Regions from separate parts of the Homo sapiens genome. Here region 1 is linked to region 2. Evidence: fine-mapped expression QTL. A gene starts in region 2. The other region holds a variant in brackets. All regions are shown on one strand. Distances are between the middles of the regions. Region 1 overlaps NUP205 (nucleoporin 205). Region 2 holds the start of NUP205 (nucleoporin 205).

Region 1 (8,345 bases), 25 kb after region 2:
TCCTCATTGGACATTTGGAAAGAGTGACAGTTGAGGCTAATGGCTCACTGGATGCAGTGAATCTGGCTCTTCTTATGGCGCTTCTATACTGTTTTGATATCAGTTTTATAGAGCAAAGCACAGAGGAACGAGATGGTATTGAGTTTTATACATTTTCCTACATTAAAAAAATCAGATTTAAAATTGTGGGGATAACATTTAAAAAGGGTGATATTTTAGCTACTAAAATAGTCTGCTCTGTTCCTGTGTTTGCAGTCCGTTCATATTTGAATATTTATATATAAGATCACATTTAAAAAACAGCTGCAGTCCTGTTAATTATTTCTGTTTTTTGGGGGGATTTGGAATGGAAAGTATTAAAGCATATATTATACATGTTCATGATTGCACATGCCTAATTTACTTAATTGCTTGTTTCTTTACCATTCATTTACATTTTCAAACTTTTTATTAAAACATTCTGAGACAGTGACTGTCATTTCAGTAATGTAATCTTTGATCTGTGTTTTCTGTGAAGTAAATAAAATTTTTGTGATCTTTAGATAGCATGATTTCTATTTTAGAATTTATGTGCAGAAAAAATGAGTGTCTAACTTTTTTCTTGTTTATTTGTAGTACACTTATAAAAATGACTGAAAATAGTGAAATTGAAATTTAGGATTATTGTCATTTTCTTTTTTTGTTTTTAGTATGTGTACAATCAACAGTAGTGTACCTTTTGGGATGTAGAAATTAATGTTAATTGGTCATTATTCTTCTGTGAGAATGCTCAGATTTTCTGACTTTTGGATATTATTCCTGTGTATCAGAAGTGAGAATTTATCTGGTGATCGGTAAAGTGGTCTATTTTTGTGTTTTCAGATATGATTCATCAACTTCCACTGTTGACAGAAAAACAGTACATTGCAACAATTCACTCTCGTCTTCAGGACTCACAGCTTTGGAAACTGCCTGGGCTCCAAGCCACTGTTAGACTTGCCTGGGCGCTGGCATTGAGGGGAATATCCCAGCTACCTGATGTGACAGGTGAATTGATTGTAGGTAATTTTGTTATGAGAAACAGCATGTTAGCACTTAATGACATTTTTGGAAGGAGTATTATCTTTGACATACATAAGCATAAGCATAGGAAGATATCCAGAGTTGTATTAAATGAAACCTTTAGTGTAGTAGTGAAATACAGACTTTTTTCTCCTTGTCTCTCAAAAATATCATATGAAATACTATTTCCCATTCTTGGAGCCACTGACAATGCTCTTTTACCTTCAGGGTATGAGTTTAAAATTTGGAATGACAGTGTCACATTAATTTTTTTTTTTTTTGAGATGGAGTTTTGCTCTTGTTGCCCAGGCTGGAGTGCAATGGCACAGTCTCGGCTCACTGCAACCTCTGCCCCCCGGGTTCAAGCGATTCTCCTGCCTCAGCCTCCCAAGTAGCTGGGATTACAGGCATGCGCCACCACACCTGGCTAATTGTGTATTTTTAGTAGAAATGGGGTTTCTCCATGTTGGTCAGGCTGGTCTTGAACTCCCGACCTCAGGTGATCCGACTGCCTTGGCCTCCCAAAGTGCTGGGATTGCAACACGTGAGCCACCCCGTCCGGCCTTAAATGTTTTTTAAAATTAAAATATACTATTCCTTTTATTTTTATATATTTTACTTCTTGATTTGTTCACAAACTAGTTTTTCACATTGTGTCAAATTAAAAACAGTTATTTTTCCATACAGTGTATTAAAAAGGAGATATTTGGATCAGTCAAGAACAGATGTGGAATCCCGACTTTTCTTTTTTGTGGCCCAGGCTGGAGTGCAGTGGCTCGATCCCGGCTCACTGCAACCTCCACCTACTGGGTTCAAGTGATTCTCCTGCCTCAGCTTCTTAAGTAATTGGACTACAGGCACACGCCACCACACCCGGCTAATCTTTTGTATTTTTAGTAGAAACAGGGTTTCACCATGTTGGCTGGGCTGGTCTCGAACTCCTGAGCTCAGGTGATCCACTTGCTTTGGCCTCCCAGAGTGTTGGGTTTACAGGTGTGAGCCACCGCGCCTGACCAGAATACTGACTTTTAACAACCTGTTAACTCACTGTAGCATATATTATTCTGCTATTTACATTTACATTATTTAATTGTCATATTAGTAGGGGTTTATTCTAACAGAATGAGAACCATACATGGAACACGAAGCCCAAAGAATTGTCTTTTTATGGTAAATCTAGAAAGGCTTTATTCAAGTTTACAATTTATGTCAGTTTTCTAATCCTAAAGTATCAACAGATTCTAGTATCTTATCAATCGTGTAATTCCAGAACATTTTGTTTTCACTAGTGTCATGCTGTTCCCAAGGTGTTTGCAGAAAGCTTTTTTTGTGTTAGGAGTCTTTCTTTGGCCAGTTAATTTCTATCTGTCTGTCATCTATATATCTAAATGCTGATAGCGAATTAGACTTTTACATTCCCGTACAAATTCTGTTTCTCACCTGTACGTACCCTCATCATTTATAAGTCTTATTTCACTACTTTTCTGACATAAAGTTACCCTTTAACCTTTGAAGTGGCTATGTGATAGTTAATATCTTCTTTTTTTATTTTGGAGATGGAGTCTCGTTCTGTTGCCCAGACTGGAATGCAGTGGCATGATCTCAGGTCACTGCAACCTCTGCCTCCTGGGTTCAAGCAATTCTGCCTCAGCCTCCGGAGTACCTGGGACTATAGTCGCACGCCGCCACACCCAGCTAAGTTTTTGTATTTTAGTAGAGACAGGGTTTCACCGGGTTGCCTAGGCTGGTCTCGAACTCCGGAGCTCAGGCAATCTGCCTGCCTTGGCCTCCCAAAGTGCTGGGATTACAGGCGCGAGCCACCATGCCCAGGTGTGATAGTTAATATATTAACTATATAATATAGTTATACATAGATAGTTATTATAATATTATGTAATATGGTCACAATCTTATGCTATAATTGCCCATACCACTGCACTAGTTTTGAAAGGTTTAATAGAATATGCTATAGTTTGCTGTAGAATAATAGTAAAAATAGGTTAGGAATCACAGCCCTAGTTTCAAGTCCCAGATCTTTGGCTACTTAATCTCTTTGATTTTATATGCTCATATCCTTTTATAAGCTTTAATAGTTAGGGGTATTATAATTAGAATTTTTAAACTATAAAAATTTTTCTGTTAATTTGCATTTTAAAAATTGTTAGAAAAAATGACTAGCTTGTGTTATTTTGCAGAAATGGTCACTTCTTGAAATAATCCAGACAAGTTTTAACGAAGATCTCCAATTTGAAAAATTGGTTTCTGTTCTCTTCATAGACTTCTGAAACTTTTATCAAATGTTTTTATTATATTATTCTATAAAAGGCATGAAGCCAGGTGCAGTGCCTCATGCCTATAATCCCAGCATTTTGGGAGGCCAAGGTGGGAGGATTGCTTGAGCCCAGGAGTTCATGACAAACCTGGGCAATGTAGTGATACCTCATCTCTTCAAAAAATTAAAAATTAGCCCAGTGTGGTGACATGCCCTTGGCTGTAGTCCCAGCTACGCAGGAGGCTGAGGCAGGAGGATCACTTGAGCCCAGGAGAGAGGCTGTAGTGAGCTGAAATTGCTCCACTGCACTCCAGCCTGGGTGACAGAGTGAGATCACATCTCAAAAAAAATTAAAAAAACAAGCATCGGCCGGGTGTGGTGACTCACGCCTGTAATCCCAGCACTTTGGGAGGATGAGGCAGGTGGATCGCTTGAGGTCAGGAGTTCAAGACCAGACTGGCGAACGTGGTAAAAGCCCATCTCCACTAAAAACACAAAAAATTAGCCAAGCATGGTGGCGCGTGCCTGTAATCCCAGCTGCTTGGGAGACTGAGGCAGGAGAATTGCTTGAACCTAGTGGGCAGAGGTTGCAGTGAGCTGAGATCATGCCACTGCACTTTAGCCTGGGTGACAGAGTGAAACTCTGTTTCCAAAAAAAAAAAATCAACAAAAAAACCAAGCATTTTTGTAATTTCACTAAGCTTTACAGAATTTTAGCATACTGTTTTTAGGCATTGAAACTCAATTTATATTAAGACAATGATGCCTTATTGCCTAAATGGTCTTCAAGAAGTAATTTTTGGCTGGGCATAGTGGCTCATGCCTGTAATGTCAGTGCTTTGGGAGGCTGAGGTAGTCAGATCACTTGATGTCAGGAGTTCAAGACCAGCCTGGCCAACAGGGCGAAACCTTGACTCTGCTAAAAATACAAAAATTAACTGGGTGTGGTGGCACATGCTTGTCATCCTACCTTCTCAGGAGGCTGAGGCTGGAGGATGGCTGAAACTGGGAGGCAGAAGTTGCAGTGAGTCAAGATCGCACCACTGCACTCCAGCCTGGGCAGCAGAGTAAGACTCTGTTTCAAAAAAAATAAAAGACGTAATCTTTGAGTTGATTCTCTTTTAATTCTGGTGTTTTTGAATTCAAGTAAAGGTTTGAAATAATTTGTTACTGTTACTGAAAATATTTAATAATTAGTAATTTTAGTAATTGTTATTACTAGTCATACCAAAGAATTAAGACAATATTTTATTCTCAAGGATTTTGTATAATATGGGTAGATAAGCACGTTTTTGTTTGTTTGAGATAGTGGCTTCCCTGTTGCCCAGGCTGGAGTGCAGTGGTGTGACCATGGCTCAGTGGCCTCAACCTCCAGGGCTCACATGATCCTTCCACTTCAGCCTCCCAAGTAGGTGGGACCACAGCTAATTCTTTGATTTTTTTGTAGAGATGAGGTCTCACTATGTTGCCTAGGCTGGTCTTGAACTCCTGGGCTCAAGCAATCCTCCTGTCTTGGCTAAGTGTTGGGATTACAGGCATGAGCCACCACACCTGGCTGATAATGCAGACTTTATTTCAAAATACGAAACAAAACATTAAAAAAACAGGCCAGGCATGGCGACTCATGCCTGTAATCCCAACACTTGGGGAGGCCGAGGCGGGTGGATCATGAGGTCAAGAGATCAAGACCATCCTGGCCAACATGGTGAGACCCCATCTCTACTAAAAATACAAAAAATTAGCCAGGCGTGGTGGTGCGTGCCTATAGTCCCAGCTACTTGGGAGGCGGAGACAGGAGAATCTCTTGAACCTGGGAGGCGGAGGTTGCAGTGAGTTGAGATCGTGCCACTGCACTCCAGTCTCGG[C/T]GACAGAGCGAGACTCCATCTCGAAATAAATAATAAATAAATAATAAAAATGAAATACTACAAATCATATGTTTTCCTCTGTTTGAGACTATCTTGGCTTTTATCTGTTCCTGGCCCTTTTCAAGGCAATGAAAATGTACTTACGGTAACAGACTATGTATTTGGTTTGTATGACAGTCAAACAGAATAAGCTGTGTAGTAGTCTTTTTCAAAGCCAGATTGCCACACAATTACCTAGTAATTTTATATTCAAAATTTAAGAGCAGTAATCAGCAATATGTTTCTTGATGGAAAGATACACCATAACCTATGACATACTCTTAATAGAAAGTTGAATGTAAGTCAGATTAAGTTACTCTAGATCAAGCCACTGCACCCAGCTGAGGAATTAGTTTTAAAGATGTGATAATGGCCAGGCGCAGTGACTCACGCCTGTAATCCCAGCACTTTGGGAGGCCGAGATGGGAGGATCACTTGAGGTCAGTAGTTCAAGACCAGCCTGGCCAACATGTTGAAACCCTGTCTCTACTAAAAATACAAAAATTAGCCAGGTGTGTTGGCGCACACCTATAATCCCAGCTACTTGGGTGGCTGAGGCCTGAGAATTGCTTGAACTGGGAGGGAGAGGTTGCAGTGAGCTGAGATTGTACCACTGCACTCCAGTCTGGGTGACAGAGCGAGACCCTGTCTCAAAAAATAAAATAAAATAAAGATACGATAATGGTGTTGTGTGTGAGTATGTAGTGAATTTTTACTTTTGCTTTCTTTCTTTCTTTCTTTTTTTTTTTTTTTTGAGACGGAGTTTTGCTCGTTTTCCAGGCTGGCGTGCAATGGCGTGATCGTGGCTTACCGCAACCTCCGCCTTCTGGGTTCAAGCGATTCTCCTGCCTCAGCCTCCCCAGTAGCTGGGATTACAGGCATGCGCTACCACACCCGGCTAATTTTTTGTATTTTTAGTAGAGATGAGGTTTCTCCATACTCCCGACCTCAGGTGATCCTCCCAAAGTGCTGGGATTACAGGCATGAGCCACCCTGCCCGGCCTTGTTTCTTAAGTATATTTTTGAGTTGTACACTGCAAATACTTACTGGTAAAATGTTAAATTGGAATTTGCTTTAATGAGATATGTATGAGTGGAGAGGGGGAAGATATAGATGAGGTAAGATTGTCCATAAGTTGGTAGTATTGAAACAGGTGATGGGTATGTAGAGGTTTATTATACTTATTTTTAGATATATATTGGATATTTTCCAAATAAAATATAAAAAAATTACAGTTAGACAAGTTTATATTCAAGTTAAAATTTAGTTTTTAAATTTTAGCTACTTGGTTACCAAATTAGCACAGTTACTTACCTATTCATGTTCAGGTTTTGGTCTTGGATTGAAGACTTTTCAGATGACCCATGAGATTTCATTGGGATTAAAGTCTTAACATCATTTTAATATGTGAATGTTTGGATGATAGCTCCCTGACTACATCAGTGTTGCATCACACATCTCTAAAATAATTTTCATTAGTTATGTTATTATTTCAAAGAGTATGTATTTTTCTAATACACATTCAGAGTATATTGTTATTTGGGGTTTGTGAGTTCTTTAGGGTTTATGAGTCAATTACAGTTATATATAGTCTCATTTTGTGCATAGCACATGCTAGAAGGCTGGGAAGATGTCTGAACCATCAGCAGAGTATTATGAGATATAATTACAATCTGGGTTAATGACTTTTCCTCCATGTACTGTGTTTTAAAATCTGTTTCTAGCTCTGGCAGAATTCACAGAGGCAGATGAAGCAATGGCAGAACTCGCAATTGCTGACAACGTTTTCCTGTTCCTCATGGAATCTGTAGTGGTATCAGAATACTTTTATCAGGAAGAATTTTATATTCGCAGAGTCCATAATCTCATCACAGATTTCCTTGCACTTATGCCAATGAAGGTAAGTGTAATAATGTAGGATGAGTAAATAGTAGAAGAATTTTATAAAATAATTTAAAACTGATTAACCAGCTTTATGTTTTGGAAACTAATAAAAATTTTTAATACAGACTAAAATTTGCCAGTAGCTGTATTACATCTTGTGAATCAGTTTGTGACTCATGAAATAAGTCATGAGTCTCTACAAGATATGAGAACATACCTTGTAGAATTTCAGTTGTATTAAATTTGTTGAGGTTTGTTTTATGGCTCAGAATATGGCCTGTCTTGGTAAATGTTCTATGTACACCTGAAGGGAAGACATATTTTGCTGTTGTTCTATGGAAATAAGTCCTCTTAACTGGGGATAAGTCAGTAGAAAGAAATATTTGACATAGTGAATGGTTTATAAATGAGAAAGTAATTAAATGAAAATGCTTCTGTGGGTAGAAAATTACTAACCTCATGCTGCCCTAAGGATTAGTGCTAAGGTTGCTTTATTTAATATTTTTATACATGATTTGGAAGAGGCACAGTGGAAAAATTGCATTTTATAGATAATTGTTTAGATTTTTTTTTTTTTTGAGATGGAGTCTTGCTCTATTGCGCCCAGGCTGGAGTGCAGTGGTGTGATCTTGGCTCACTGCAATCTCCGCCTCCTGGGTAAGTGATTCTCCTGCCACAGTCTCCCAAGTAGCTGGGATTACAGGCGCCCGCCACCACACCTGGGTAGTTTTTTGTATTTTTATTAGAATGGGGTTTCACCATATTGGCCAGGCTGGTCTTGAACAGGTGATCTGCCCACCTCGGCCTCCCAAAATGCTGGGATTGCAGGTGTGAACCACCATGCCTGGCCCGATTGTTTAGATTCTGAATTGCAGTGTATAAAAGGGCTTCAGCATGGATACAGGTAAAATAATGAATTTAAGAAACCGTAACACAAAGGCTGCTTTTGAATAGATAGCTTGAGCTGTAACTGTCATCTGAAAAGCGATTCTTAGAGCTATTTCAAACAGTTCCTTATAGTATATGCTCTGTGTGCTGTTTTGTGCCAAAGAAGCCATCAAATGTTGGCGGGAAGTAAATGAGGGAGAAAAACGTCTTTTTTTGTGTTTATATTATAAAACCACCTATTTCAAATGTACAGTTTTTAAAAGCACCCTGAAAGGTCTACACTTGTAATATATTGTGCAGTTTTGGTACCATACCTCCTGAAAAGTATAAATTGATTATCATAAATTTGCCCTTA
Region 2 (8,345 bases):
TAGGCAGTGGAAGCACCAAGCTCTGCAAATTATTTTTCTGAATTGTAACTGCAAGCCAGAGATGTGGTAGGAGCATGGAATATAAATATAAAAACACACAGCTGTTGCTTTCTAGGAGTATATCAGTTATTTCTTGGGCATAACAAATCACAAAACGGTGACTTAAAACAATAGCCATTTACTTGCTCACAATTCTACAATCTGGTCTGGACTCACACATTTACAGTCAGTTGGTGGATCAACTAGTACTGAGGATCCAAAATAGCCTCACTAATGTTCAACATTTCAGCTAGGGTCTGGAATGGCTAAGGGTTGGCTAGGCCTCTCTCCTCATGGTCTTTCGTCCTCAAAAAGACAAGCTCGAGTTTCCTTACATGGGCAAAAGAGCAAAAAGGAAGTAACAAGGTCTCTTAAATCCTGGGCTTGGAAGTGCCCAACATCACTTCCTCTGCATTCTCCTGGTCCAAGCAAGTCAGAAGGCCAACCCAGATTCAATGTGGCAGATGATTACACAATGGCTTCAATTCAGGGACCTGTGATTCACTGAGGGCCTTTTAATAACAATCTACCACAAGAAGCTAACAGTTTTAGTGAGGAGACAATTGTCATAGCACATTGGGACGTAATAAAGATGGGAAAAAGTGCAATAGGTCTGCAGGCAAAGAAACACCCGAATTTGATGGGGCAGGGGATCAAGGACAGCATCATGAAGGCAGCATTAACACAGGCCCTGAGACTTGGAGAGCAGATCATGTTTGGAGGTTAACTTGGTGGGTGGTCACAGGTGAATAAGGAAGGGAAGGAAGGGCAGTCCAGGAGGACAGAATAGCAGGTGCAAAGACATTGATACATGGCAAAAGAAAGCATGTTGTATTTGGGGATAACAAATAGTTCAGAATGATTAGAGTAAAGGGCTCTTGAGGAAGAGTGTGGAAGGCTGAAGAACGAGGCTGAACCATATCAGGAAGTGTCATGAGTGCCTTGCTAAGAAGATTTTAAATGATACTCTTAGTAATAACTCTTAGTAATAGAAGATCATTGAGAAATTTTGATCAGAACAACCACATCATGTGTTTTTTTTTTTTTTTTTTTTTTTTTTTTTGAGACAGAATCTCACTCTGTCACCCAGGCTGGAGTGCAGTGGTGCGGTCTCGGCTCACTGCTATCTCCGCCTCCCTGGTTGACACCATTCTCCTGCCTCAGCCTCCTGAGTAGCTGGGACTACAGGTGCCCTCTACCATACCTGGCTAATTTTTTGTATTTTTAGTAGAGATGGGGTTTCACCGTGTTAGCCAGGATGGTCTCAATCTCCTGACCTCGTGATCTGCCCGCCTCGGCCTCCCAAAGTGCTGGGATTACAGGTGTGAGGCACTGCGCCTGGCCATATTTTTTTTTCCTTTTTTTTGAGACAGAGTTTCACTCTTCTTGCCCAGGGTGGAGTGCAATGGCGTGATCTTGGCTCACCGCAACCTCTGCCTCCCGGGTTCAAGCAATTCTCCTGCCTCAGCCTCCTGAGTAGCTGGCATTATAGGCATGTGCCACCACGCCCAGCTAATTTTGTATTTTTAGTAGAGACGGGGTTTCTCCATGTTGGTCAGGCTGGTCTCGAACTCCTGACCTCAGGTGATCTGCCTGTCTTGGCCTCCCAAAGTGCTAGGATTACAGGCGTGAGCCACCGTGTCCGGTCATGTTTTTTTGTATTTAAAAATCACTTTCAGGCTGGGCACAGTGACTCATGCCTGTAATTTCAGTGTTTTGGGAAGCCGAGGTTAAGAGTTCGAGACCAGCCTGGCTAACATGGCAAACCCCCGCCCCCCGCCATGTACTAAAAATACAAAAATTAGCCGGGTGTGGTGAAATGCCCCTGTAATCCCAGCTACTCAGGAGGCTGAGGCACAAGAATCGCTTGAACCCGGGAGGTGGAGGCTGCAGTGAGCCAAGATTGCACCACTGCACTCCAGCGACAGAGTGAAACTGTGTCTTGAAATAAATTAATAAAATAAAATAAAAAATAAAAATCACCTTAGGAGTCCATGAAAGGAAGATCAGATGGAAATAAGAAAGACAAATGAGAAGGCTATTGCAAAATACCAAGTTTAAGAAGATGAGACTTGAACAATGGCATAGAAAGCAGAGAAGAGGAAAAGGGTTCCAGAAATATTTGTGAGGTAGAATGAACAGGATTTGACAATTGAAGGAAGAATACAGAAAGAATCCCAGGTTTCCGATTTTGGCAACTGGGTGGGGATACAGGTGGCAGAGTTTTAGGGGAAAAGTGATCATTTACGTTTCAGACATGTTGGTTTTGAAACGCCTGTGTGGCAATCAATACAGATATGAAGTAGAGAGTTGGTTCTACAAATATGAAGCTCAAGAGAGAGGACTGGACTAGAGATACAAACACAGAATTCATCAGCAAGCAGGTGGTAGTAAGAAACCATAAGATGTCCCACAGAAAGCATGTAGAATGAAAAGGACAGAAACTAGAGATGACTATAGGGGAAGAGCTAGATTTAGTGGGTAGAAGAGGAAGAGAAGTCCACGTAAAACACTAAAAAAGAACTGGAAAGAGGAGGAAAACCAGTATCATTGGTGCCCCAGTAGCCACAGGATAATATAATTTTGTTTCTTTCTTTTTCTTTTCTTTTTCTTTTTTTTTTTTTGAGGCAGAGTTTTTACTCTGTTACCCAGGCTGGAGTGCAATGGTGCGATCTCGGCTCACTGCAACCTCTGCCTCTGGGGTTCAAGCGATTCTCCTGCCTTAGTCTCCCAAGTAGCTGGGATTACAGGAGTCCTGTCACCACGCCCAGCTAATTTTGTATTTTTAGTAGAGACAAGGTTTCACCATGTTGGCCAGGCTGGTCTCGAACTCTTGACCTCAGGTGATTCTCCCACCTCAGCGTCCCATAGTGCTAGGATTACCGGCGTGCGCCACTGCACCCGGCCTATAACTATCATAATTCAGAAAAGTGCCCATGGAATTTGATGACTGATAACTGGTAAACATACCAAGCGCAGTTTTAGAGGGGCTTATGATGGCAATATCCCAATTGCTACGAATTGAAGAAGCCTGTGAGAGAATGCTTGTAAAGTGTAATGACAGGTGAAGAGGAGTTGCTGGAATTTAAAGAGTTACTTTATAGAAAGCAAAGTTATCTACTGAGAGGGAAGCGTGTGGGCTTAAAAAGTGCATGTGGAGAGGGAAAGGCTTGTAATAGCTGTGCTGAGAGAGAAATCTTTGAATGCCGCTTCCTGTCAAGTTCCTGCTCAGTATTCTTCTCAGTTTCATGATAAACTTCTTGAAAAATTCCTTTGCGTTTACTTTCTCTCTTCCCCACTTCACTCCTTAAAACCACTTTAATCGTAGTTTGGCATTTGTCTCTATATATCAATGACTTTTAGAAAAAATCACCAGTGATTTTTGTGTTTCAAACCTAATGTACATTGTGTCACTTGATATTATTTGTTCAAAAGAATAAATGTTCTGTTCTGGATATTCTTTTTTTTTTTAAATGGAGTCTCACTCACTCTGTTGCCTAGGCTGGAGTGCAGTGGTATGATCTCAGCTCACTGCAACCTCCACCTCCCGGGTTCAAGGGATTCTCCTGCCTCAGCCTTCCGAACAGCTGGGGTTACAGGTGCGTGCCGCCATGCCTGGCTAATTTTTGTATTTTTAGTAGAGACGGGGTTTCACCTTCCTGGCCAGGCTGGTCTCAAACACTTGACCTTAAGTGATCGCCTGCCTTGGCCTCCCAAAGTGCTGGGATTACAGGCATAAGCCACTGCGCCCTGCCAGTTCTGGATATTCTTAACATACTCTATGCTTTTGTCTAAATTATTTGATTCTGATTTCCAACAGTGAAATGGGAATGATGGAGAGTTAATACAATGAGATTGTAAGGCACATGGAGCGTCTCTGACATAAATAGTTATAATCATATCATTTTCCCAATAGAATGGTTTGCAGGGATTAAATGAGATAATGGCTATAAAATTTTTCTTAATACATAGCTGTAAATAGCAATGATTATTTACATTTTAGTTTGAAAATCAGCAAACTAAAATTTAACAGCTGAAGAAAGAGTTCAGCTACTTTGGGTGCTCAGGTAGAAAAATACTTGGTGATTATGAAACGATATGTCTGGAATCTGTTTCAAACTAATCGGGGGCGGGGGGTGGGGAGGGGAGGGTGTTGGGGTGGTAAGGGTGGGTTGGGGCTGCCGTGGTGGGAAATTGGCCACGTTATTGATGCTGAGTGTTTGCTATTCTAATTTTGTATCCGTTTGAAAATTTTATAATTAAAAATTATGATTTGTTTCGCTCTACGCAACTATGTTGACAGAATATATTTGGTAAACTGAAATGTCACGGAAACTTAGTTTGTAACCGGTCAGTGGCTTTTTGAGGTGTAGACACTTCATACCTTACTTCACTCCCCACTGTAAGGAAGATTTAACTTGAAGCGGAGATAATGATTTGAATTTACGGCTTTTATAATGTCATAAATGGGCGTCATTTTAATAACTACTCTCAGAATATCTTTTTCTATTCCACTTTACTTTTTCCTCTCCACTTAACCAACTCATCATTAGAAACTACAAGTCCCAGGATGCACTACACGATGAACGTCGGATCGAGGACCTCGTGTCTCTGAAGTGGTTGCCCTCGCCTTATTTGAATGGGAATAATCCCAATGAAAATTGATGTTTGTGACCCAGAGCAGATTCTGGAGCCTTTTGTACGCCTGGGACGGCCCAGCGTGGAGGGGACAGTGTGGTGCCTTTTTGTTCAGGCTTCGCTCAGGTCAGCCTCACCCTTTCCCGGGGCCTCCATGCGGCAGAAGGGCTCTGTTAGTGCGCCTCTAAGATGGCGACGCCTTTGGCGGTAAATTCGGGTAAGTGTGGCCAGACAGAAAGACGATTGAGCTGAGCGATAACCAGGTCTTCATGGAGAGACGAGACCGTGAGGTTTCTCGGAGTCTAGGACCCCACTTATGTGCGGTGCCTGCTTTTCCCTAATTCTGGGCCTAGAGTCCCACCCCTCCCCAGTTTGAATGGCGCGCGTCGGTGCTGCGGCTCCAGCCCTCGAGTTGGGGTTTGAGATTCCAGGCAGTGAGGCTTGGGCCGCTGGACCCAGGTGTGTAATCTCTCACAGCCCAGGGCTGAGTCTGGTCCCCCTCACCCCCAAGTTTCACTGTGCGTCTGTGGTCCCGATTTCGCTGGAATACGCATCAGGTCTTCCACAGTGAAGCCAGAGGACCCGAGATATTTTCCAGCCATGAGCAGAGGCTGAAAGTAGGCGTCGGAGTTCCTTATAGGGTGGGAGATCTTGCAGGCAGCGAATACTCCCTATTATGAAGTCGGCCATCTGAAAGGTGGTCAGGAAGAGGGTGGCGGGGCTTCAGCAGACGTCTTCTAACCCTGCGGATGTGGTTAGGCCCTGGATGTTCTTGTACCTTTGGAGCTGTAGATTTTCGGGGTGGAATTGAATCTAGAAGGTAGTAAAGGAACTCTGGAAGATTTGGGGTGGATCCTCTTTCGGTGATTCTCAATTCGGGCCGTACCGCCCTCCAGTGGTGTTTGAATGAGTGAGTGCATTTTGATTGTCATATTTCCTGGGGTACACTGCTGTCGCATAGTAGGCGGGGCAAGGATGCAGAAAGTCCTTCATGGTCAGAGCAGTCCGGAAAAATAATTTGGTGCCTAGAATGTTAATGCCTCGATTGAGATGCTCTGAAGTTCGCGGGCAAGATTAAGAGTATATCTGTGTGGTAAATGCTTGTGAGAATCTCACTTAAAAGGACTCTTTTTTAAAGTATTGGTTCTATTTTCCACAGGACTGATATTCTTGAAAAGTTGTCTAAATCTGTTTTGTAAATCAAATCATTTCAGAAAAGCTATGATAAATTATAATGAAGGCTATGTTTACTGAACACATACTATATCCCAGCATTGCACTTATTATCGTGCTTATCTCATTCAGTTCCCGTTTATACACCTTTGGAGTAGTTACTGTTACATACTCCGTTTTACAGATTTGGAAATAGAGGCTTCAAATAGTTACGTAATGTCCCCAGAGTTAAACATCTAATGATCTAAGTCAGTCTTAGGTGCTTAAACTACTTAGTGCTACTGCTTAAGCACAACCTAATTCATTTTATGATATTAGACGTATATATTAGAAGGTTAGTAATGAAGTTACATGCTTAATATTGCGGTCCTTCCTTCCCAATTAGATATGCTTAACGTGTGGTTGTATATAATACATTTCTCTATTTTATTTTATTTTTTAATTTTTCTTTTTGAGATGGAGTCTTGCTCTGTCTCCCAGGCGGGAGTGCAGTGATGCGATCCGCGATCCTGGCTCGCTGCAACCTCTGCCTCCCAGGTTGAAGCAATTCTCCTGCCTCAGCCTCCTGAGTAGCTGGGATTACAGGCATGTGCCACCACGCTGGGCTAATTTTTGTATTTTTAGTAGAGGTGGGGTTTCTCCATGTTGGCTAGGCTGATCTCGAACTGCTGTCCTCAAGCGATCTTTCTGCCTCGGCCTCCCAAAGTGGTAGGTTTACAGGTGTGAGCCAGTACGCAAGGTATACACATTTATTTTCCTTTTTTTTTTTTTTCTTTTTTTGAGATGGAGTCTCATCCTGTCCACCCAGGCTGGAGTGCAGTGGCGTGATCTCGGCTCACTGCAGCCTCCACCTCCTGGGTTGGAGCAACTCTCCTGCCTCAGCCTCTGAAGTAACTGGGATTACAGGCGCCCGCCACCATGCTTGGCTAGCCTGGCTAATTTTTTTTTGAGATGGAGTCTCACTCTGTTGCCCGGGCTGGAGTGCAGTGGCACGATCTTGGCTCACTGCAACGTCCGCCTCCTGGGTTCAAGCGATTCCCCTGCCTCAGCCTCCCGAGGGGCTGGGATTACAGGCGCCCGCCACTACACCCAGCTAATTTTTTGTATTTGTAGTAGAGAAGGGGTTTCACCATATTGGCCAGGCTGGTCTCGAGCTCCTGACCCCGTGATTCACTCCCTTCAGCCTCCCAAAGTGCTGGGATTACAGGTGTGAGCCACTGCGCCTGGCCAATTTTTTTTGTATTTTTAGTAGAGACGGGGTTTCACCATGTTGGCCAGACTGGTCTCAAACTCCTGACCTCAGGTGATCCGCCTACCTCGGCATCCCAAAGTGCTGGGATTACAGGCGTGAGCCACTGTGCCTGGCCTATATACATTCCTTTAGTACATACTCGCCCTAAGCTATTATAATTATTAAACAAATCATTGGAGGGAAAAGGAGTTGCCAACAGCAGCAAAGAGTGTACATTGTATAATAAAGCCTTGTGTCAGGAGTGTTTAATTGGCAACATAGGAAACATTTTTAAAAGCCAAGAGTCAGGAGCTGGTTTTTTAAAAAACTAAACGTCTTAGGGAAGGAACTCTTTTTCCATCAAGGAATGAATGTTGGGTTGAGTGGGTAAAGGAAATGTGTCATATACATGCAATATGCATAATACATATACATGCATATACATAACATAACGTATACATGCATATATATAGTATCCTTATGCAGCCTTAAAAAGGAAGGAAATCCTGTCACATAAAACAACGTGGATGAAACTTGAGGACATACTAAGTGAAATAAGCCAGTCACAAGACACAAATACTACATGATTCCACTTATATGAGGTATCTGAAGTAGTCATACTCATAGAAACAGAAAGTAGAATGGTGGTTGCCAGGGGCTGGGAAAGGGGAAAGTGGGGAGTTGTTTAGGGGGCATAGAGTTTCTGTTTTGCAAGATGAAAAAAGCTGTGAAGATCTGTTGCACAATGTGAATACACTGAACACTGCTGAACTGTACACTTAAAATTTGTTGAGATTGCATTCTATGTTATGTGCTTCCTTTAAATTACAGTTTTAAAAAATCAAACATCTTGGAGTTGTAAGGAAAAAATACAGAGATTGTAGAGTTCTAAGACCTATGGTTGGCCAGGTGTGGTGGCTTATGCCTGTAATCCCAGCACTTTGGGAGGCTGAAGTGGGCAGATCACCTGAAGTCAGGAGTTCGAGACCAGCCTGGCCAACATGGTGAAACCCTGTCTCTACAAAAATACAAAAATTAGCCTGGCATGATGGCAGGTGTCTGTAATCCCAGCTACTCGGGAGGCTGAGGCAGGAGAATTGCTTGAACCCAGGAGGAGGAGGTTGCAGTGAGCCGAGATCATACCACTGCACTCCAGCCTAGGCAACAGAGCGAGACTCTGTCTTAAAAACAAACAAACAAAAAACAAACAAAAAAACCTATGCTTGTATTTCAGCTGTATAACTTAACTAGTCTTGTGACCTGT

Evidence for each region. PIP is the estimated chance that this variant, and not a neighbour inherited with it, causes the effect.
Region 1: its variant is fine-mapped to the expression of NUP205 in whole blood (TOPMed, PIP above 0.99). The same link has a PIP of 0.9 or more in blood mononuclear cells.

What each region holds. Positions count from the first base shown.
Region 1 is chr7:135,577,890-135,586,234 of GRCh38, forward strand. NUP205 (nucleoporin 205) reads left to right here. Exons shown (of 43, transcript NM_015135.3): 6 at 1-135; 7 at 862-1,026; 8 at 6,943-7,118. Among named protein-coding and RNA genes, the nearest start is that of NUP205, 24 kb to the left of the region's middle. The variant C/T (reference allele first, on the strand shown) is at 5,179.
Region 2 is chr7:135,553,079-135,561,423 of GRCh38, forward strand. NUP205 (nucleoporin 205) reads left to right here and starts at 4,839. Exons shown (of 43, transcript NM_015135.3): 1 at 4,839-4,894. The coding sequence starts at 4,867. RefSeq lists enhancers at 4,680-4,809, 5,190-5,239, 5,300-5,359, 5,430-5,549.